3 linked regions of the Homo sapiens genome follow. The protein of the gene in region 3 interacts with the protein of the main gene of each other region in a biochemical or structural test. Each region holds a gene or a part of one and is shown on either strand. Other genes may lie near its edges. The genes, in order: THBS1, LPL and LRP1.

Region 1 (3,746 bases), on a different chromosome or scaffold from region 3:
TGATAAGAGGAAGGGCTTTGTGTTTGAGATAAGCAGCTCCTATACCTGTCAGCTTTCTCTAATAAGAAAGCTCTTTCCTGCCACCGTATAGGTCACCTTCTTATTGGTAAAGCATGATGAAGTTTGGAAACTGTTGTCCTTGTTTTGTTGAAAGAAGCCAAGTTCCAAGAAATCTGCAGAGGCATTCCTACAATCCCTCAGCCATGGCAGCATGAATCCTGAAGGGGCAGTGAGTGCTGGTTTCTACTCTGTCTGCACAGCTAAGCCTAGGGGAGATAATCTTTTCATACAAGATGCATTCTGCTTTTGTGGGCCTCTTGCAGCCCTCAAGCCCCCATCTGATTTGTACACAATGATCCAGTGGGCCAGAGGAGCCCAGAGCCATGAGCGGCCCATCCCTCCAAGAACTATTTCTGACTGTCCAGTATCATGGAGCAAGTGGAAAGAAGAAAAAAAAAACCCAATTACTTTTCGAAGAGCAAGATGAATGCTGTAGAAGGAGAAGGAAGGGGAGGGAGATGGATGGGTGCCGATTCCAGAATCTTCAGATCTGCTTGGATGAATCATTACCTATGATTTGCGGGACAAGAATCTGATTTTATTCATCAACCAGTAGAAACTTTTCTTTCTGCCTCCCAACATCTGAAATCCAACAAACATGTGCCTTAGGAACATACCGGTCATCTTTTAGAGGCATTTTATATACATATTGAGTAACTAGAAAACACTCTTTCCGTAATACACACACACACACACACACACACACACCATCTTGTCATACAACACTCCCACGCAAGAAAAGCGAAACTGCTGTTTGATGAATGTAAACACTTGGCTGTTTGCAGCAGTCGGGAGTCCTGCCAGGTTTAAGTGCTAAGATGGGAGGTGAACCCCAGGGGTTTCCCCCTGCCCGTGCTGAGATCCTTATTTGGTCAAGCTTCTACCTATGCCCTGGCCTCGGAGCGAGCCCGATAGCGCTGGATCACAGCAGAGGGAGCGAGGCGGCTGACGTCCCATCCCGAAGAGATGAATGGAATTCCAGGAAGCTAGAGTCATGCTGGCTTGGGACAGTGGCTTGGAGACCAGACTTCAATGACAGAAGCACTAGGCAGCGGCACTCATGGCAATGTGTGCACCCACAGAAATGTAACCCACACCTCGGGTTCAGGAGCCGAAAAATGAAAAGAACGTTTAGGGAGGAAAAAGGGAAATACAATAATAGGCAGAGAGTAATTTATTACTCTATGGGTCTGCTCTGTAAATAGCTGAAGACTCTGGAGCCAGATGGTTCTGCAAATTCTCCAAACAGGAGTCACGTTAAGAAGCACGAGTGGGCACAAAAACTGTTTTTCAAGACACAATTTCAATTTGGCTTGTGGAAACTGGATACGAGTAAGTTTCCTTAAAATTCGAGTAGAAAGCAGCTGTCCTCCCCGGGCCCCTTGATGAGAATACGCACACCGCCCCCAAGCGGCCGGCCGAGGGAGCGCCGCGGCAGCGGGAGAGGCGTCTCTGTGGGCCCCCTGGCAGCCGCGGCAGGAAAGGGCCCGAAGGCAGCGAAGGCGAACGCGGCGCACCAACCTGCCGGCCCCGCCGACGCCGCGCTCACCTCCCTCCGGGGCGGGCGTGGGGCCAGCTCAGGACAGGCGCTCGGGGGACGCGTGTCCTCACCCCACGGGGACGGTGGAGGAGAGTCAGCGAGGGCCCGAGGGGCAGGTACTTTAACGAATGGCTCTCTTGGTGTCCCCTGCGCCCCGTCGGCCCATTTTTCTTTTTACAAAACGGGCCCAGTCTCTAGTATCCACCTCTCGCCATCAACCAGGCATTCCGGGAGATCAGCTCGCCCGAAAGCCCCTGCGCCACCCCGCGGGCCCTCCTAGGTGGTCTCCCCAGCCCCGTCCCTTTTCGGGATGCTTGCTGATCACCCCGAGCCCGCGTGGCGCAAGAGTACGAGCGCCGAGCCCGTGCGCGCCAAGGCTGCGTGGGCGGGCACCGACTTTTCTGAGAAGTTCTAGTGCTCCCAAGCCCCGACCCCCGCCCCCTTCACTTTCTAGCTGGAAAGTTGCGCGCCAGGCAGCGGGGGGCGGAGAGAGGAGCCCAGACTGGCCCCCACCTCCCGCTTCCTGCCCGGCCGCCGCCCATTGGCCGGAGGAATCCCCAGGAATGCGAGCGCCCCTTTAAAAGCGCGCGGCTCCTCCGCCTTGCCAGCCGCTGCGCCCGAGCTGGCCTGCGAGTTCAGGGCTCCTGTCGCTCTCCAGGAGCAACCTCTACTCCGGACGCACAGGCATTCCCCGCGCCCCTCCAGCCCTCGCCGCCCTCGCCACCGCTCCCGGCCGCCGCGCTCCGGTACACACAGGTAAGTCGCCCCCGGCGGCCGCCGAGGACCAAAGCTGCCCGGGACATCCACCTGGAGCGCTGAGGCTTCAGTCCCTCTGGTGGACCCCGGAACCTACACTCTCCCCGCTCGCCTACCCCAGCCCGCTCCTCTCAGCCGCTGGAGGACTCTTCAGGGCAAGGCTCCAGAGCCATCCTCTCCAGCCTTGAGGTTCACAAACCAACTCATCAGGACACCCCAAGATTTCCTTACTCTCTGAAGTCCTCCTTAAGCCTTTGTATCAGCACTCCAGGGAAGAGTCTGTACTTCCCCTGCCCTCCCTGCAACCCCAAACTACAGTTCCTGATCTTGCTCACCTTCGACTTCCCAAAAGCCCCCAAATTGTTGGTCTTGCGCCCCCCACACTTTAAAACCAGCATCTCTTTCCTCCACCTCTCTCTCTCTCTCTCTCTCTCTCTCTCATGCTCTCTGGAAAGTAATCCTGTTGTCCTTCATTTCAGCAAACGCGGGGTCAAAGAGGGATGGTCCCGGCCCTGTCCCCATGCCCAGCCCCGTTTCTGCGCACCGTCCCTCCCTGCCTAGCTGATCTCTGACCCTCGGCTCTTGTGCTTCCTGCTACAGGATCCCTGCTGGGCACCAACAGCTCCACCATGGGGCTGGCCTGGGGACTAGGCGTCCTGTTCCTGATGCATGTGTGTGGCACCAACCGCATTCCAGGTGAGTTTGTGTGGCACCTTTAGGGGAAGGAGGGACAAGGAAGAGGTGCTGGCTATCCCAGGTGTGCCCCCTCACGTGCTGTCCTCTCCCTCTTGAGCCTGACTGGACATCAGGACGCAGCTTCACTCTGATCCTGGTATTTATTCACCTCTTTCAGTGGTTGCCAGGAGTTTTCACCCCAACCCTTTGTCTCCACCCCTAAGGACTCAGCCCCCTACTGCTGGTCCCAGCCTAGAAAGCTCACTTTGTGTTCTCTCCTGTCTAACAGAGTCTGGCGGAGACAACAGCGTGTTTGACATCTTTGAACTCACCGGGGCCGCCCGCAAGGGGTCTGGGCGCCGACTGGTGAAGGGCCCCGACCCTTCCAGCCCAGCTTTCCGCATCGAGGATGCCAACCTGATCCCCCCTGTGCCTGATGACAAGTTCCAAGACCTGGTGGATGCTGTGCGGGCAGAAAAGGGTTTCCTCCTTCTGGCATCCCTGAGGCAGATGAAGAAGACCCGGGGCACGCTGCTGGCCCTGGAGCGGAAAGACCACTCTGGCCAGGTCTTCAGCGTGGTGTCCAATGGCAAGGCGGGCACCCTGGACCTCAGCCTGACCGTCCAAGGAAAGCAGCACGTGGTGTCTGTGGAAGAAGCTCTCCTGGCAACCGGCCAGTGGAAGAGCATCACCCTGTTTGTGCAGGAAGACAGGG
Region 2 (3,746 bases), on a different chromosome or scaffold from region 3:
CATGCATATATGTATATGTGTGTATGTTTGAATGTATAGTATATGGGTATATATTTTCCCATTATTCCTTACTCTAAATATCTGTATCACTTTATCATTGAAGGTTAGCCAAGCAATGACAGACTCAGGAAACATTCAGTGGAAGGGACCAGAGGTACATGGTCCAGCCCCTCATTTAACAGGTGAGAAGCCTGAGCCCCAGGGAGGTGATCCCGTTTGCCCATGTTCATTTGCCTGGTCAGCAAAAAAGACAAGAAAAGAACTTTTGTCTTTTATGATCAGTCTAATAAACACAGCTTATTTTTTACTTCCAATTACCTGGTTAAAATAATTTGCCTTGGTCAGAGTATCAGCTTCTTTCCAACCCCAAGATACTTTTCAGAGGTACTTCTCAAGGGATCGTGTGAAAAAGTGGGTCTCTTGCAGCTAAGTCAGAACTCCAGACCTCAGTTCCCTTCTATCCTATGCACCTTCCCTTCCAACATCTTCCTAGCTCAATTCCATCACTCTCCCAATGCTCAACAAAAACGTTCATCCTATTTCACACTAAAGAATAAGTACTATTAATATTTTCATGAAAGAGATTGGTATGTCAAGGTGAGGATAAGATGTCCACAGGCCAGCCAACTGGTAGGGAAGGGTCTGGCTGAACATGCCATCTTTCCTCTGTCCGAAAATCACAAGCTTTTTTCTGTTGGGCCCACTTAGTTATTGGTCTCAGCAGATCTATTCACTGTGAAAATATCAAACGATAGAGCAGGGCAGGACTATTTATTGGCCTTATAGTCTATTCTTATCAAAATGTTGCTTTTGGATATAAAATAATATCCACGCTGATTCTGAAGATTTGAATGCCCCCAGAAAATATTTAAATCTAAGAGAAAAGGAAGAAAGAACAGCCGGTTTTCTGGCTCCAGTCAAAAACACTGTTTTGGACACATAAGTCTCCTTCTCCCAGTCTTACCTCCATCCAGTTGATAAACCGGGCCACATCCTGTCCCACCAGTTTGGTGTAGCCCGCGGACACTGGGTAATGCTCCTGAGCCCGTGACAGCCAGTCCACCACAATGACATTGGAGTCTGGTTCTCTCTTGTACAGGGCGGCCACAAGTTTTGGCACCCAACTCTCATACATTCCTGTTACCTGAAGATGATGACACAAGCTTTCTTAAAATACCCACCTACCACTTGTCATAGATACATCAGCCCAATACACCTGCATGAAATGGAAAAAACAAACTTGATTGGAAACCCATTGGCACAGATAGAAAAATCAAATAACAGAACAGTGTTCAGAGACAGGTCTGTCCCTTCCAAGGCAGATCTAAGTAAGCCAGGAAGGCATTGAGTTGAGTTGAGGAACGGCAGATTGGGGTTCACCATGCTTCCCATTTAAAAAGTATATTTTAGACATTCAATAAAATTTTGATCATTTATACTATTAAAAGGAAAGATTGGTCTGAATGCAAAGTGGGTCTTTGAGGAAACTAGCAGGAGCACCTGGCTAGGAGCAGAACCCTGTTGAATTGGTCCAGTCCCACTCACCTTCGCCTCCCTTCAAGGTTGGGGTGTTGGGCACCCTTTGTAGTTGGCTTTCAAGATCAGGAGAGGTTGATGTCATTTCTTCAGAATGTAATGTTAATGTCTCCCTGTTTCAGCCAGGATCCCCTACTTCACAATGGGAACCCTGTACTTAAAGCCAGTGACATCCAAGCAAGTGGCAAAGCTCCAAGATAGCTGTGTCTAAGCAACCTGCTGGGATGTATCACATGCATGCTACATGCTAAGCATTCCTTTGGGTGTCTCATGACACAGCTGGAGAGCCTCCTCATTTCCCTTCGTCTGTGCCTGTGAGTCCCCAGGCAGCTTATTTCAGATAAGGCAAGAAAATCGGGTTTACTCTAGGCCTCTATCAGAAGTTTTTCTGTACTACCAGTGTTTCTCTTTTCTTTGTTCTTCCTTCCTTTCTTCCTCCCTCCCTTCCTTCCTTCCTTCATTCCTTCCTTCCTTCCTTCATTCCTTCCTTCCTTCCTCCCTCCCTCCTTCCCTTCCTCCTTCCCTTCCTTCCTTTCATTCCTTCCTTTCTTTCCCTCCTTTCTTTCCTTTCTTTTGGCAGAGTCTTACTGTCTCGCCCAGGCTGGAGTGCAGTGGCATGATCTCAGCTCAGTGCAACCTCCGCCTCCTTGGTTCAAGCGATTCTCCTGCCTCAGCCTCCTGAGTAGCTGGGACTACAAGCACATACCACCACACCTGGCTAATTTTTTTGTATTTTTTTAGTAGAGATTGGGTTTCCCCATGTTGGCCAGGTTGGTCTCAAACTCCTGACCTCCAGTGATCTGCCTGCCTTGGCCTCCCAGAGTGCTGGGATCACAGGCATGAGCCACCGCTCCCAGCCCAGTGTTTCCAAGTTAAGCAATCTAAAAAGGCTGGACATCCAACTTACTCCTACAGTGGCTGACATTTTTATTAACCGAACAATAGCTAATTGAATCCTTTCTTTCTGATCAACATAAAATACTGATGTAAGTAATCCCAAACAAAGCAAATGAAAAATCTAAGTACTCACCTTTCTCAACTCAAAAAGGGTCTTATTCTAAGTTCTTTCAATCTGAGTTTTTCTTCTGAGGTTCAATAATTACTATGTTTTAAATCTTTGGTTTTCAGACACGCAGCTGAACTGAAGCCCTCCCTGCTGCCTATACCAGGTGGGCCACCTGACCCTGCCAGTGAGTTCACTGAGATAATCAAGATCAGTGTGGCTGGCTTAGTTCTTGCACAGACCCAACTCAGTCCCACAGCCAGACAGCAGTCTCTGTGCTCAAGCACTCAAAATGTCAGGACACATGATGTGAAAGATACAGGTGGGCTTAGTGAGGCAGTAGGACCAATGATAGGAAGTGGCACCGTCTGTTGATATTGGGTTGGTCATGTCATCTTAGTATGAAAAAGAACCATTTTTTTCCCACAACTTCCCAAAGTATAAAATTCTCTCAGGGATAAGATTGAGATGACTGAGATACTCAATTTATTTCTGTTGTATAAATGCGTTTATTAAGCTCAGATTTTTTGAAAAATTTTAAAATCCAAGTTCTGTATATAACCAAAGGGCCTCTAAAGATTCCTTTTTCTGGGCCAGATGCAGTGGCTCTCGCCTGTCATCCCAACACTTTGGGAGGCCAAGGTGGGTAGATCACTTGAGGTCAGGAGTTCGAGACCAGCCTGGCCAACAGGGTGAAACCCTGCCTGTGCTGAAAATATAAAAATTGGCCGGGTGTGGTGGTGGGCGCCTGTAGTCCCAGCTACTCGGGAGGCTGAGGCAGGAGAATCTCTTATGCCCAGGTGGCGGAGGTTGCAGTGAGCCGAGATCGCGCCACTGCACTCCAGCCTGGGCAATAGAGTGAGCCTCCATCTCAAAAAAGAAAAAGATTCCTTTTTCCTACTTACACCTATTAAAATATTAAAGGATTTATGTTTAGGAATTTGAGATTTTATCACAAAATATTGAATTTACTATGTTAACATAGTAAATGGCTATATTTTGTTAAACATCTGTGTGAATTCTGTTAGTAGTAGTCTCATCTCTATAAAAATTGTAGCGATTGTCCTCTTCAGTCAATAACAAAGCCACTTAAATTATGTAGGAAAAGAAATGTGGACTAGATGAATGTTATTTTTAGTTAGTTCTCACTAGAAATTAGTATTATAATATTCACAAGCTCTGACATAATGGATAGATAATATATCTT
Region 3 (3,746 bases):
GGCTCTCCGCCTTCGTACATCTTGTAGGTGGGGTTTCCAATCTCCACGTTCATGGCCCCGTTGGTCATCCGTTGGTGCTGGAAGCCCTTAGCCCTGGGGAAAGGCAGGAGTATAAGGAGACAGAGATTATTGGGGGGGAAGGCTAGGATGGCAAAATAATGACCAGAATGTTCCAGAATCCCTGTGACTCACCCTTGGACTCGCCGCTTATACCAGAATACCACTCCGGCCACCAGAACCAGCAGCAGCAGCAACAGCAGAGGGATTAGGATGGAGGCTATATCTGGAGGGAAGAGGTGGGACACTGAGTCACCAAGGCTCAGGGAAGCAGGAGGCACACGGTCCCCCTGCTCTAGGTCCCGGTGGCCCTGCCTGCCCCAACCCCTGCCACCTACGTCCTGGCTGCTGCTGGCTGAAGACGTGCTCCTCACACCGGGGCCCTGTCATGTGGGGTGGGCACCTGCAGAAAGGAGGGACACGGCTGAGTAGGTATAACCTCCATAGCCACTGCTGCCAGGAAAACAGGGCGGGGGGTGGGCACTGAGGCCTGACGGTCCTCCTGCTCAAATCTGGGGAAGGGAGCGATGATCTATGCCTGGGTGAAGCCCGGGCCCAACTCACTGGCACTCAGGCATCATTTTGCTGTTCATGGTACAGGAGCCGCCATTGCTGCAGTGGCCGACGCAGGTCAGACAGCTGGGGGCCACCCGGCCATCCGTGCAGCTGCAGGAAGGAATCAGAGGCTGGGGCTGGGGCTGGCAGAGGCGTGCCTGGGATGCTGAGGAAGGGAGGGGCAGGGCAGGGCTAGGACAGGGCAGGGGCCCAGCTGGGTGGAACTGTGGAGGAGGGCCCCACTCACTTGCAGGTGACATCCCCACTCTGCTTGTTGACCACACAGGCCCCTTCGAGACAGCGGCTGCACTTGTTCACCTCACACCTCGATCCCTCAAAGTAGGCAGTGCAGCGGCATTGTCGGGAGCCATCAGCAGCCATCTGGCATGTGCCAAAGTTCTCACAGTAGCCAGAGCACTGCCCTGTGGTTGGGGAGGGAGAGAAGTGCCTCAAGCCCCACCCTCATGAGGGCTCTCCATAGGTTGAACAGAGCTTTTCTGTTTGCATAATCTTGGTGCAGGGGGTGCACTGCCTCAGGGGAAGTGTGCCAGCACCTTTGTGGGGAAGCGCCAGCAGCTTGGGCCTGGCTCAGCTGCATAAGGCCTTCTTTCCTGAACTTGCCCCTGTGGGTCCCAGGCACAGGTTGAACATCACCCCATGCTCTGGGGTCCCCCGTCACCCTCCCGCATGCCCTGGGGCCCAGGGATGGCTCACTCACGGTACTGGCAGCGGTCGCCCAGGAAGCCGGGTAGGCATCGGCACTGGGGCTGGTTGCCCTGGTTGACAGTGCAGGTGCTGTTGTTGGCACAGTAGCCCGCACACACCTGCTGGGTGCATTTGGGGCCCGTGAAGCCCGTGGGGCACCGGCACGTGGGCATGCCTGGTGGGAGAGGATGTGTGAGCGCGACTGTGGCCCTCGAGACCACCTGGCCCTATAGCAGAGGAATGGGCTGGGGGGACCTGGGCGAGAAGCAGAGACTGGAGTGACTGGATGCTGGGTTGTGGAAAGGAGGCTGGAGGCGAGGCAGGGGCTGGGCATTTGCCTGAGGTGGGGTGGTGGGTGGCGGGGCTGGGGCCCAGGGGCAAGGAGCAGGCGTGGCGGGATGAGGGGGCATACCAGAGGGGGAGGCAGCACAGGTGCCCCCATTGCGACAGTGCTCCCAGCACTGGTCCAGTTCACACTTGTCACCCGTGTAGCGGGGTTGGCAGCGGCACTTGGGCTGCCTCCGTGCATTGAGGAAACAGCTGCCACCGTTGAAGCACTGCAGGTTACAGGTTCCAGGCCGGGGAGCTGCAGGAAGGGCCCGTCAAGGGGCAGAGCCAGGGGAATAGGAGGAGAGGGACAGGCAACAAGGTCAGGGGAAGTCAGGAGCCACAGGAAGGAGATGGTCCTGAGGCATGGCTGGGACTGGGAGGGCATAAGCATACCATCTGGGGGGGGCGTTGGAGAGGGCACAGGCACGCATGTGCCGTTGTCCAGCCGCTTCCCATTGGGACAGGTGCAGACAGGCCCACTGGGGCTCAGCAGGCAGAGCCACTCGCATTTCTTGCGGTCACATGGGTTGGTCACTGCAGGTATGGGTGGGGTGGGGAGGATGCTGAGCAGGACCCTTCTCTGAGCCCTGTGAGCCCAGGGTGACCCCCTCTCCACCAGGTCCCAGGGCCACAGCTTGGAGACTCAATGCCCACAGGCCTCCCTTCCCCAGCCCAGGCTCCCCTCTGCCCCCACCTTCGGGCTGCTTGTGCTGATGGTAAAGGACCACGTCAGAGGCGTGGCTCAGGCCCCCTGTCAGGTTGACCAAGGGGCTGTGGCCAAACTTATGGATCTTGAAGACACGATTATTGATGTAGGTGACACCATAGATGTAATCCTCAAAGACGTCGATGCTGAAGGGGTGACTTAGGCCTGGGGGAGGAGGTGGAGTCAGAGGGGACCTGAGGGGCACTCAGGCCCTGGCCATGCTGTCCACGACACTGGCACCTGTGGTTCCCAGACACCTCAAACTCAACACATCCAGACCAAATTCTCTCTCCCCACACCGGTTCCTCCTCCTGTGGCCACTACTGGCAAAAGGTCCCATCACCCCCAGACTTCTGGGGTCAGTCATGACTGACTTCTATTCCTTCTCCCCCAATTTGCTACGTTCCTAATGTACCTATGCTGCCTCCGTGCAACCCAACCAATGAATGGACAAGTAGGCCAGAGGGTCAGGGTGGGTCTCAGGCCTGCAGGGCTGGTTCAGGGGGAGGCCAGCTGGAGAGGCCTGGAAGGCGCTGCAGCATTGCTGGGGGTCAGTGACAAAGGATGGGAGGCATTGAAGTGAGGCCTTTGGCTCAGTAGGGAGGATGGCAAGGCTGGGGACAGGGCTGGGGACTGCGACTTATGCCGGGCTCTGACCTCGTTTGCTGTCAGCAGCCACAATGGGGTCCGTGCCATTGAGCCGGATGCTGCCGATGACTGAAAGCTTGGCGTCTGCCCAGTACAGCCGCTCATTGTGATAATCCACGGCCAGGCCTGGGGAGAGAGAGAGCACTGTGAGAGCTTGGCCTCCCCAACCCAGGCTCGGGGTGGAAAGAACTGCCTCCATGCCCGGGACAGCTCCACCCTGTTCATACGCCACTCACAGTCACCTCTTTCGGGAAAAGCCTCCACGGCCAATCTGCCCTGCCCCAGTCCAAGCCCCATCCCATCCCTTGCTTTTGTGTGACTTCAGCAGCAGCTGGGCTCTGCGAGCCGGGCCCCCTCCATGCCCGTCCCTCCTGCACCCTGCCCCACAAACCTGTGGGCCACTGAATGTTGTCCTGCACCAGTGTCTCCCGAAGCGTCCCATCCATCGCTGCCGTCTCAATCTTGGGGTGGTTGCCCCAGTCTGACCAGTACATGGTCCTGGGGAGGGAGAAGGGGTGAGTGTGGGCAGGCCGGAGGGCCAGAGGAGGCAGGCCCAGGCAGGACACCAGCTTCTTGGTCTGGGGACAGGGACTGCTGGGGACTGGGAGGAGGGCATTCTGTCCTTCTACAGAGAAGCAGGCGGGAGTCTGCTTCTGAGCAGGTTGAGGGGCTTTTCCTCTAAAACCACAGTGTGCTCATTCAGAGCCACCGACGCTGGCAGAGCTGTTCCCCAGGGCAGAGTGTG

The links.
Region 1: the proteins of LRP1 (region 3) and THBS1 form a complex in vitro, tested with the Homo sapiens proteins (3 studies listed by BioGRID).
Region 2: the proteins of LRP1 (region 3) and LPL form a complex in vitro, tested with the Homo sapiens proteins (3 studies listed by BioGRID).

What each region holds. Positions count from the first base shown.
Region 1 is NC_000015.10:39,578,873-39,582,618, forward strand, and holds the start of THBS1 (thrombospondin-1 precursor), read left to right. Parts: upstream 1-2,206; 5' UTR 2,207-2,356; intron 2,357-2,835; exon of another isoform or gene 2,836-2,956; 5' UTR 2,957-2,985; coding exon 2,986-3,052; intron 3,053-3,320; coding exon 3,321-3,746. Other genes in the region: uncharacterized protein LOC124903470, read left to right, coding at 1,446-1,880. UniProt on the Homo sapiens protein: Adhesive glycoprotein that mediates cell-to-cell and cell-to-matrix interactions.
Region 2 is NC_000008.11:19,949,167-19,952,912, reverse strand, and holds part of LPL (lipoprotein lipase precursor), read right to left. Parts: intron 1,145-3,746; coding exon 965-1,144; intron 1-964. UniProt on the Homo sapiens protein: Key enzyme in triglyceride metabolism.
Region 3 is NC_000012.12:57,208,464-57,212,209, reverse strand, and holds part of LRP1 (prolow-density lipoprotein receptor-related protein 1 preproprotein), read right to left. Parts: intron 3,500-3,746; coding exon 3,393-3,499; intron 3,128-3,392; coding exon 3,011-3,127; intron 2,519-3,010; coding exon 2,342-2,518; intron 2,182-2,341; coding exon 2,041-2,181; intron 1,904-2,040; coding exon 1,730-1,903; intron 1,493-1,729; coding exon 1,331-1,492; intron 1,035-1,330; coding exon 860-1,034; intron 724-859; coding exon 622-723; intron 461-621; coding exon 396-460; intron 284-395; coding exon 193-283; intron 94-192; coding exon 1-93. UniProt on the Homo sapiens protein: Endocytic receptor involved in endocytosis and in phagocytosis of apoptotic cells. Required for early embryonic development. Involved in cellular lipid homeostasis.